Regions from separate parts of the Homo sapiens genome. Here region 2 is linked to region 1. Evidence: fine-mapped expression QTL. A gene starts in region 1. The other region holds a variant in brackets. All regions are shown on one strand. Distances are between the middles of the regions. Region 1 holds the start of ADAMTS10 (ADAM metallopeptidase with thrombospondin type 1 motif 10). Region 2 overlaps NFILZ (NFIL3 like basic leucine zipper).

What was found. PIP is the estimated chance that this variant, and not a neighbour inherited with it, causes the effect. A credible set is the group of variants that fine-mapping cannot tell apart.
Region 2: its variant is the best candidate, but not a certain one, in a credible set for the expression of ADAMTS10 in whole blood (INTERVAL, PIP 0.80).

What each region holds. Positions count from the first base shown.
Region 1 is chr19:8,608,210-8,612,597 of GRCh38, reverse strand. It overlaps ADAMTS10 (ADAM metallopeptidase with thrombospondin type 1 motif 10), which reads left to right and starts at 1,883. Exons shown (of 26, transcript NM_030957.4): 1 at 1,883-1,954; 2 at 4,350-4,388. RefSeq lists a silencer at 2,563-2,985.
Region 2 is chr19:8,677,139-8,681,526 of GRCh38, reverse strand. It overlaps NFILZ (NFIL3 like basic leucine zipper), which reads right to left. Exons shown (of 6, transcript NM_001378600.1): 6 at 376-4,388. The coding sequence ends at 3,892. Among named protein-coding and RNA genes, the nearest start is that of ACTL9, 19 kb to the left of the region's middle. The variant AATAATG/G (reference allele first, on the strand shown) is at 2,252.

The sequences.
Region 1 (4,388 bases):
TGGGCAACACAGCAAGACTCCATCTCAAAAAAAAAAAAAAAAAAAAAGTAGGGACAGGTGGCTGGACCAGTCACTAGGCTAACAGTGGGAGCCTTTAGTATCTACAGCAAAGAAAGGAAGCCACCACCTCTTTGATGGAGAAAGAGGGCCCCATAGGTAGTAGAAGAACAGCTAACAGAGGCCAGAAATGGCTGACTTAGACTCGTTCCTCAAATGGGGGCCCGAGAGGCCCTGGTGGGAAGGAGGGAGTGTGGGGAGCAAACAGGAGGGTGGGGGCTGCACCTCTGGTCTAGCCTGGAGTCCCAGGAGGTTGGGGTAAGGTAGTGTGGTGGGAACTCCAGGAGTCTGGTATTTATGCAGCACCTGCTGTATGCGTGAGTAATGACAGGTCATTCCAAGTTCAAAAGGAAAAATTCCGAGTTGGGAAGCTGCCCTCCTGGTCTCAGCTGTGTCCCTGGAACCCAGCACATAACAACAAATCTTTGCTGCAGAATGAAACCCCTCCTCCACCCCCTACTCCAGCCCTGGGAAGGCTGTTATTACCCCCACTGTGTGGATGAGTAAACCCAGACTCAGACAAAGCCAAGGCCAAGGCTCTGGCCAGCTCCCTGGGGGGGGGCGTTCCTGGGAAATGCCTGCAATTGTGAGGCCTGGGGGTCACCGCCCTTCCCTGGAACCAGGCACTGTACCAGGCGCCTGGGATTCAAATCCCAGCCCTGCCCCAACCATCCAGGTCCTCCTCATTCACGCATTCGTTCATTTTATGGAGCGAGACCCAGAGTGACCAAGACCAAGAGGGCTCCGGTTCCAACAGAATTTTCACTCTCCCCATCTCTGTGGCCTCAGTTTCCTCATCTGTGAAATGGGACCAGCTGAGCCTACGTCACCGCAAAGGAGTTAAGGCACAGAGACCAAGGCCAGGCCCAGGACCGATCAAACCCCCCTGAGAGCTCGGAGAGGGCGGGGCCGAGCTGGGACTTATTTCCCGCCCCGGGCACCGTGCCTGGCACACGGGAGGCGCCCAATAAATGCTTGTTTGAGCCAGGCCCAGCCCTCAATAAATAACAGCTGTTGTTGATGCCGCAGAGGCTGGCGAGGAAGTGGGCTCTCCCCTCCCCAACCCCAGCATCTCATGCTCCCATCCCCCCTCCAGCCCCATTCCTTACCCCCCTCCATTCCTTCCCGTGGCCCCCAACCCAACTCAGCCCCTTCCTCCAGGCCCCCACCTCCCCCCAACCCACTCAGCCCCTCCTCCAGGGCCCCACCTCCCCCAACCCCACTCAGCCCCTCCTCAAGGGCCCCACCTCCCCCCACCCCACTCAGCCCCTTCCTCCAGGCCCCCACCTCCCCCCACCCCACTCAGCCCCTCCTCCAGGCCCCCACTTCCCCCCACCCCACTCAGCCCTTCCTCCAGGCCCCCACCTCCCCCCACCTCACTCAGCCCCTTCCTCCAGGCCTCCATCTCCCCCTACCCCTTCCCATTCAAACTTCCCCCTCCCCCAACCTCTCCCTTCTCTTCCTCCCTTTCCCCGAACCCCCACCCACCCAATTCTGCCTCCATCCCCATCCCCCACCTGATTCTTTCTCCCCTCCCCCACCCATTCTCCCCGCCGCCACTCGATTTCTCCCGCTTCGTCCCCTCCCCGCCCCCCGCGGTTCCCCAGCCCCCTCCCACGCGGCGGGGGCGCTGGTCCCGGGCGGGGCGGCCCGAGTTCCCGGGTCCCTGGCTGGGGTCCAGCCCGCGGCCCAGGCCGGGCGGCGGCAGGCGGGCGGGGTTTCTGGCCGCGCGCAGTTTGGGGGTTTTTTTATAACCCTGGCAGGCGGCTCAGGAAGTGCCTTCCCCGCGCCCCCTCCCCTGGCCACGCCGCCGCGCTCGCTCGCTCCCTCCCTTCCTGCGCGCGCGGGGCGGCGAGACAGCGGCGGCGACGGCGCGGAGGCCCCGGGCGCGGCGCAGGTAGCGGCGCGGGCGGGGGGCCCGGGGGTGCGTGATTCAGTGGGACTTTGTGTGTCCGCATCGGGCTGTGAGGGCGTGGGGCTGTGGTGCCCTGGATGGGGGAGGGCATCCCGCTGTGCGACTCCGGTCGGTGCCTGAGGTCCGCAAGTGCGCGCGCCACTGATCACGCCCGGGGTTGCCGTGGGTTTGTTTGCGCTGTGTGTGTGTGTGTGTGTGTGTGTCCGTCCACGTAGGGGCAGAGTGGTTGTGCATTACATGTGTGTGTCAGTGCCTGGGGATGAGTCTCTTGTGTGTCTGTGTGTTTGGACAGTGTGTGCGCATAGGGGTTTGCTATGTGCGCGCAGATCTGGAGGCGAGTGTGTGTGTGTCTGGGTTTGTGTGTGTGTCCCCAAGCATGTGTGCGTTTGTCTCTGACCGTGATGAGTGTGTAAATACCTGTGTGTGTGTGTCTGGTGTGGGGGGGTGTCTAGGTCTGTGGGACTTGTGAGTTTGTCTCTGGTTTGGTGTGAGCATGCAAATGAGTGTGTATGTGTCAGCGTGTAGGCCTGTGTGTCTGTCTCCTTGGGTTGTCTGTGTATGTATGTGTGTGTTTCTGTTTGTGTAGGCCCCGGGTGCGTGTATTTGTGTGTCCGCGTGTTTCTCTGTCTTGTCCCGTGTGTGCGCGTGTAAATGAGTGTGTGTTTACACATGTCTGGGAGTGTGTGGTTGTGTGTCTCCATGTGTTTGTCTCCGGGTGTGTGAGTGTGCACTGAGCCTGTCGGCGTGTGTGTCTGCGGTGGAGGCGTCCTGCGTCTTTTGTGGGTCTACAGTGCCCGAGCGCCGGTCTCTGGTTGCGCGGGGTGTGTGTCGCTGCCAGTGTGTGTTTGTGTGTCTGGGTGTGGGAGTGGCGCCGCCCACTTCCCCTGAGTTGGTCAGTGAGGCCACAGCCGTCTGTCTCAGGGTGTCTCCAGCGGTCGGGCTCAGGGCCTTTAATTAGCGGCCGGTTGTGGGGGACCAGCCCGGGCGCCGGCCCCCTCCTCCCGCAGGCCCCGGCTGGGCCTTTGTCTGCTCTCCGGCAGGGACTGCCTCCTGCCGGCCCGGCCAGATGTGCAGCCGGGAGGAGGCCGGCAGGCTGGGGCCTCTGCCTGGGGAGACGCGGCCTTGGCCTCCACGGGGGACCTTCCGTCGGCCCTGTCCCCGCAGCCTGGCCGGAGAGGTTTGGGTGTGGAGCTTAGGGTCCCTTCAGGATCCCCGGGATGGGATGGGATGGGACAGAGCCTCTGTTTCTAAGCCATTTCCATTTCCCGGAGGCATTTCCTCCTCCAGGCCTGGCACCCTCCCCCACGCTGGCCACCTCCCTCCTGCCTTCGGGGAGGAGGGGCTGGAGGAATGGCCAGGCCTGGGTACACACACACACACACACACACACAGGGTCACACACACTCACAAGCCATAATGCACATGCAGTCACACGCTCACAATCACACACAGGGTCACACACACTCACATACATGCTGTAATGTACATGCAGTCACACACACACGCCACAGTGCAGATCCCTCACTGACATCCTGTTGGCCACCACCGTCTCTGTCCCTGAGCCTCTCTCAAGCTTCATCTTTGGCCCCAGACCCACTGCCTTGTTCATGTCCCCCCACCACCTGGTGCCCTGGGCTGTGTCACACCTCGACACCACCCTGTGGGCTGGACCCCCAGCTCAGACGCCTGTGAGCCTTCTGCAGACCCCCCTCCTCCCCCTACCCCATACACTGTGCACAGGTGAGTCCCCTTCCCCTGTCCTCACCCCCTGTGCTGGGTCCTTCCACAATGTCCCAAACCTTGTCCCTCACACCCCACCTGAGCCCAAAGCACAGAAGGGGGTGTGAGGGTTTTGGGAGGAGCGCCTCACTTCAGAGGACAGTGATGAGGACTGAGGGTCTTAGGGGGACCAGGACAGACCCAAAGACACTCTAGACAAGACCAGAGAGAGCCCCTGAAGGAGGAGGATGGGGCACCAGGCCTGGCAATGCAAGAACAGGAGAGGAGGGAGGGAGCCAGTGGGAGAAAGGGGTGAGGTCCCTGCTTCACTTGCAATGAGAATGTTCCTACCTTTCAGGGGTGGCTCAGGGCAGGAGCGGGGGTCAGAGGTGCCCAACCAGGAAGGGCCTTGATCTGGGAGTTGGCTGACACTTCCAAAGAAGGAATAGGGAAGAAGAAGCAAGAAGAGAGGGAGAGGGAGAGGAGGTGGGTTTTTGTTGGAGGGGGTTCATTAGGAACAGAAGAAAGAAGAAGTCTAAGAGGAAGTTCTCCAGGGGCAGAGAGAGGGTCAGAATTTCCTCAGTGATCCCTCAACTACAGACCCAGCTCAGTGCTGAAGACCAGCCCGGCTCCTCCTCTTTGACCCCTCCCTGCCCAGGCTCCAAAGAAGAAGAAACCAAGGCCCAGAGAGGGAGGC
Region 2 (4,388 bases), 69 kb before region 1:
CAATGCCTTGAGAACTATTCCTGGCCACTTCCTCACTGACTCATCTCCCACCTCAGCCATCCCTTTGCCCTTCCAGCATCCCCCACATGCATCTGATTACCCTTTCTCCCACACTTGTCAAAAATAATTATTTAGTGGAAGACAGCTTCATAAAGAAAAAAAAGAACCATCTGTGTTTTTCTTCCATGATTCCACCTCATGGAGTAGCTTTACCTGCCCTGTCCGTCATATCTCAGAGAAGTTTAGAAGCAGGGATGGGATGAGCACCCTGGCTCTGAGCGCAGGGAGAATGTGGCCATTTAGGGGGACATGAGTCACAGCAACACTGTGGTCAGTCCCCACCTATCCCCACCCCAGACAATGAGCCAGCTCTCCTGCACTTATGTGGTGGGTTTATTTTCACTCAGCCTCACACATCACAGGATGGAGGTAAGGGGAGAACTACAACAGAAATATACTTGGAAACGTCCCCCTCATGCCCATATCACTCAGAAAGGAAGCCAAAGTCCTCACCTTGGCCCACAAAGTCCTCCACAACCTGCTTCCATCACCTCCCTGCCCTCGCCTCCTCCCTCTCTCCCCCTTACTCACTCCACTCCAGCCACATGGGCCTCCTCAATCTTCCTCAAAACACTAGGCACTATCCCACCTCAGGGCCTTTGCACAGGCTGTTCTTTCTGACTAGGAAATGTTCTTCCTCTGATACATGCATGACTCCCCCCTTCATCTCTCTCAAGTCTCTGTTCAAATGTCACTTTCTCAGCAAGGCTGAGATCCCCCTATTTCAATCCTGATCTCCCTATTTCAATTATTACAACGCACCCACACCTACCTTTCCCAAGCCTCCCTTTTTTCTCCATGACACGTATCATCATTGATCCTACTATATGTTTTTCTTATTTTTTAATCTATCTCCTTCCCTGGGTTATCAGTACCATAGAGGCAGGAATCACATCTATTGTGTTCACTTCTCTTTCCCCAGTACCTGGAACATAAAGATAGGAGACTATCTTTATGATCTTGAGACATGGAAGTTGTCTTAAACATGACAAAAATGTACAAACCACAAAAGAAAAGACTGCCAACTCGGCTGCATATGATTTTCAGACTTTTTACAACAAAACATGCCTTGAATAAAATGAAACAATGAGAAACTTATGATCAAGAAAATTTGCTAAATAAGCAAATGAATTAAAAAATGAATGAATGAATGAATGAATGAATGAAAATGCTGTTATAGCTGAGCCACAAGCTCGGCCCTGAGCTCCTTGGTGGGCAAAGCAAAAAGGGAAACAGGATTTTTTCTTTTTCCTTTTTTTTTTTTTTTTTTTCAGATGGAGTCTCGCTCTGTCGCCCAGGCTGGACTGCAGTGGTGCAATCTCAGCTCGCTGCAGCCTCCACCTCCTGGGTTCAAGTGATTTTCATGCCTCAGCCTCCCAAGTAGCTGAGATTACAGGCGCTCGCTACCATGCCCGGCTAATTTTTGTATTTTTACTAGAGACGGGGCTTCATCATGTTGGCCAGGCTGGTCTCGAACTCCTGACCTCAAGTGAGATCCATCTGCCTTGGCCTCCCAAAGTGCTAGGATTACAGGCATGAGCCACCTTGCCCTCCAGGATTCACATTATTTATGAAGATAAAACAGTCCAGAGAAGCCCCTATACCGGGCAATTTATTTACTGCCTCTTATTTAATATTCACAATATATTTCTAGGGAATGGGCTCATTTATAGGTAAACATTTATAGATGTATAAGGGAGGCTCAGTGACATGAGAAAAGCCACCTGCTGGAAGGTCAGGCATGGAGGGAAGGAGAAGGGCTGATCTTGCCCAATCCCTGCCCTGGACCAGAACCAAAGGCTGAGCAAGTAGAGGAGGTCCTACCTGTGATGTGCAGGATTCTAGGGATGCCCAGTCACAGGGGAGCTCTTGGCCTGTTTGGTGATACTGCCCACCTGTTGTACTAGTGAGAGAGAGGCACTTTGTACGTCCTCACCCTGCACACATTTGTGGCTCTGATAAACTTGGAGTAGCCAAGAACTAGCCCAGCCCCCAGATCTGGTGGGGGTGGGCGATGCTCCTGAGTCCAAGTGATCCAGTTGGCCAGGGGCATCTGGTTCTCAGTGTCAGTACCAGTCCAGATGAGCCCCCCATCCCATGAGCTCTCCCCATGATTGGAGTTTGAGTATTTTTATCTAGAATCTAACAAGATCCCTGATGTAATAATAATAATAATAATAATAATAATAAT[AATAATG/G]GGAGAGGGGCTGAGTGAGAAACTGAGGAGGAGGGAGCCTTGATAAGTCCTTGGGCTCCAGGCCCCTGGAAGACCTTCCCTGCAGAATGGACCCTTCCACCTGGGTGGGTGTATACCTGGTTCTCAGGGGCAGGGGGCAGCCAGGGAGAGAGAGGACACTGATGCCCTCACACAGCTGCTCCTGTTCCAGCAGCTCAAGGCCTGATCCAAGACACAGAAGAAGCCAATATGTCTGCCCCTCAAACTGGGTGGTAAGCAAGCCCCCCAGGGGACACCAAGAAGGGGGATTCAGACACCCTAGACGTTACCTCCTCCTTCAGTCTGGTCTTCAGTATGTTTCTTCCCAAACACCCATTCCTACCCCAGGACAGGAAACCCAAGACCAGAAAAGTGTCTTCTCACTTGTCACTAACTGGGCACAAAAGGAAGGTCTAAAGATCGTGAGTGGGTGGGTGAGGGGACAAGTGAATTATAAGTAAATTAATGAGTAAGAGAATGAATGAATAAACAAGTTAGCACATAAATGAGTGGCTAAATGAATAAATGAATGAAAGGATGGATGGGTGGATGAGTAGATGAATGGGTGGATGAAAGGAAGGATGTGTAGATGGATGGGTGAGGATGGATGGATGGATGGGTAAATGGATGAGGATGAGTGGATGCAAGGAAGGAAGACAGGATGGATGGATGAATGGGAATGGATGAGGATGGATGGATGGATGGAGAATAAATTGATGTATGAATGGATGAATGGATAGGTGTGTGGATGGGAAAATGGATAGAAGCAAGAAAGAATGGGTGGATGGATGGATAGGTGAGGATGGGTGGATGAGTGGATGAGGATGGATGGATGCATGCATAGATAGGTGGATGGGTGGATGAATGAATGGATGGATGGATAGATAGAAGGAAAAACAAATGCATGGATGAATGAGAATGGATGGCTAGATAGAAAGAAGGAAGAACAAATGCATGGATGAATGAGAATAGATGCATGGATAAATGGAGGATGGATAAATGGACAGATGGATGGCTGAATGGATGGACGGATGGATGAATGGATGGATGGATAGATGGACGGATGGATGGATGGATGGATGGATGGATGGATGGATGGACGGACAAGTGGATGAATGGATGGAGGGATGGATGGATGGATGGATGGATGGATGGATGGAATGGATGGATGGATTGATGGATGGATGAATAGATGGGTGGATGGATGGATGGATGGATGGATAGATGGATAAGGATGGAGGGACTAATGGATGGATGGATAAGGATTGATGAATGAATGAATGGATGAATAAATGAGGATGAATGGATGAATGGATGGCTATAGGGAAGAATAGATAAATGGAAAGGAGGAAGGAAGAGGGAAAAGTGACAACCCAAAGCATAGATTTTAAGGCAAGGCAAGAGCCATGGTAGAATCCAAGATGGGCTCCCATCCACTCCACCCCTAGGAGGTCTGGTATGGAAGCTGTGAAGTGGACCTTCCAAGCCAGGGCACCCCTACTTCCTACAGGCCTTCCCAGATTGCTGATCAAGACCAAGCTACTCATCCCTCAGACAAACCTATATTCCGCCCCCAAACACCCCCTTGCAAGCCTAGCCCTTCCCAGAGGAAGCCCTCAGAGGGGCGCCTGACCACCCTCCCAGCCACGAGGTACCCTGCCTGAGGCTCGGGACTTGATGCGCAGTTTGTGGGGCAGAGAGGGCTGACCCAGACCCTCAGGACTGTTCCCTGGGGCAGGGCAGGTCACCCCAGGAGACAGACCCATGGGATCAGCAGTGGGTGTCAGCAACACATCTGATGGCCCTGAAGCCCGGCATCCAGAGGGCACTGGTGACCACAGCCCCCAGCAGGGTCTGAGCTCTGGTCTGGACCCTACATGCCCCTCCAAGAGGTGACAGCTGAAGAGGGCAGGTGGGAGGGCAGTCTGCAAGGCCATGTCAATTCTGTTGAGGGTAGGAGATGCAGACTCTTGGGGGGACCTAGGAGAAGTGGCCAAGCCAGTCCATCTGGGAGCCAGCAGGCAGCCCCGACATCCTGGAATCCCAGCATCCAGGGAACGTGGCCTTAAGAGGCAGCTGTGAGAGCCAGACAAGGATGAGAGTGCTTCAGCCC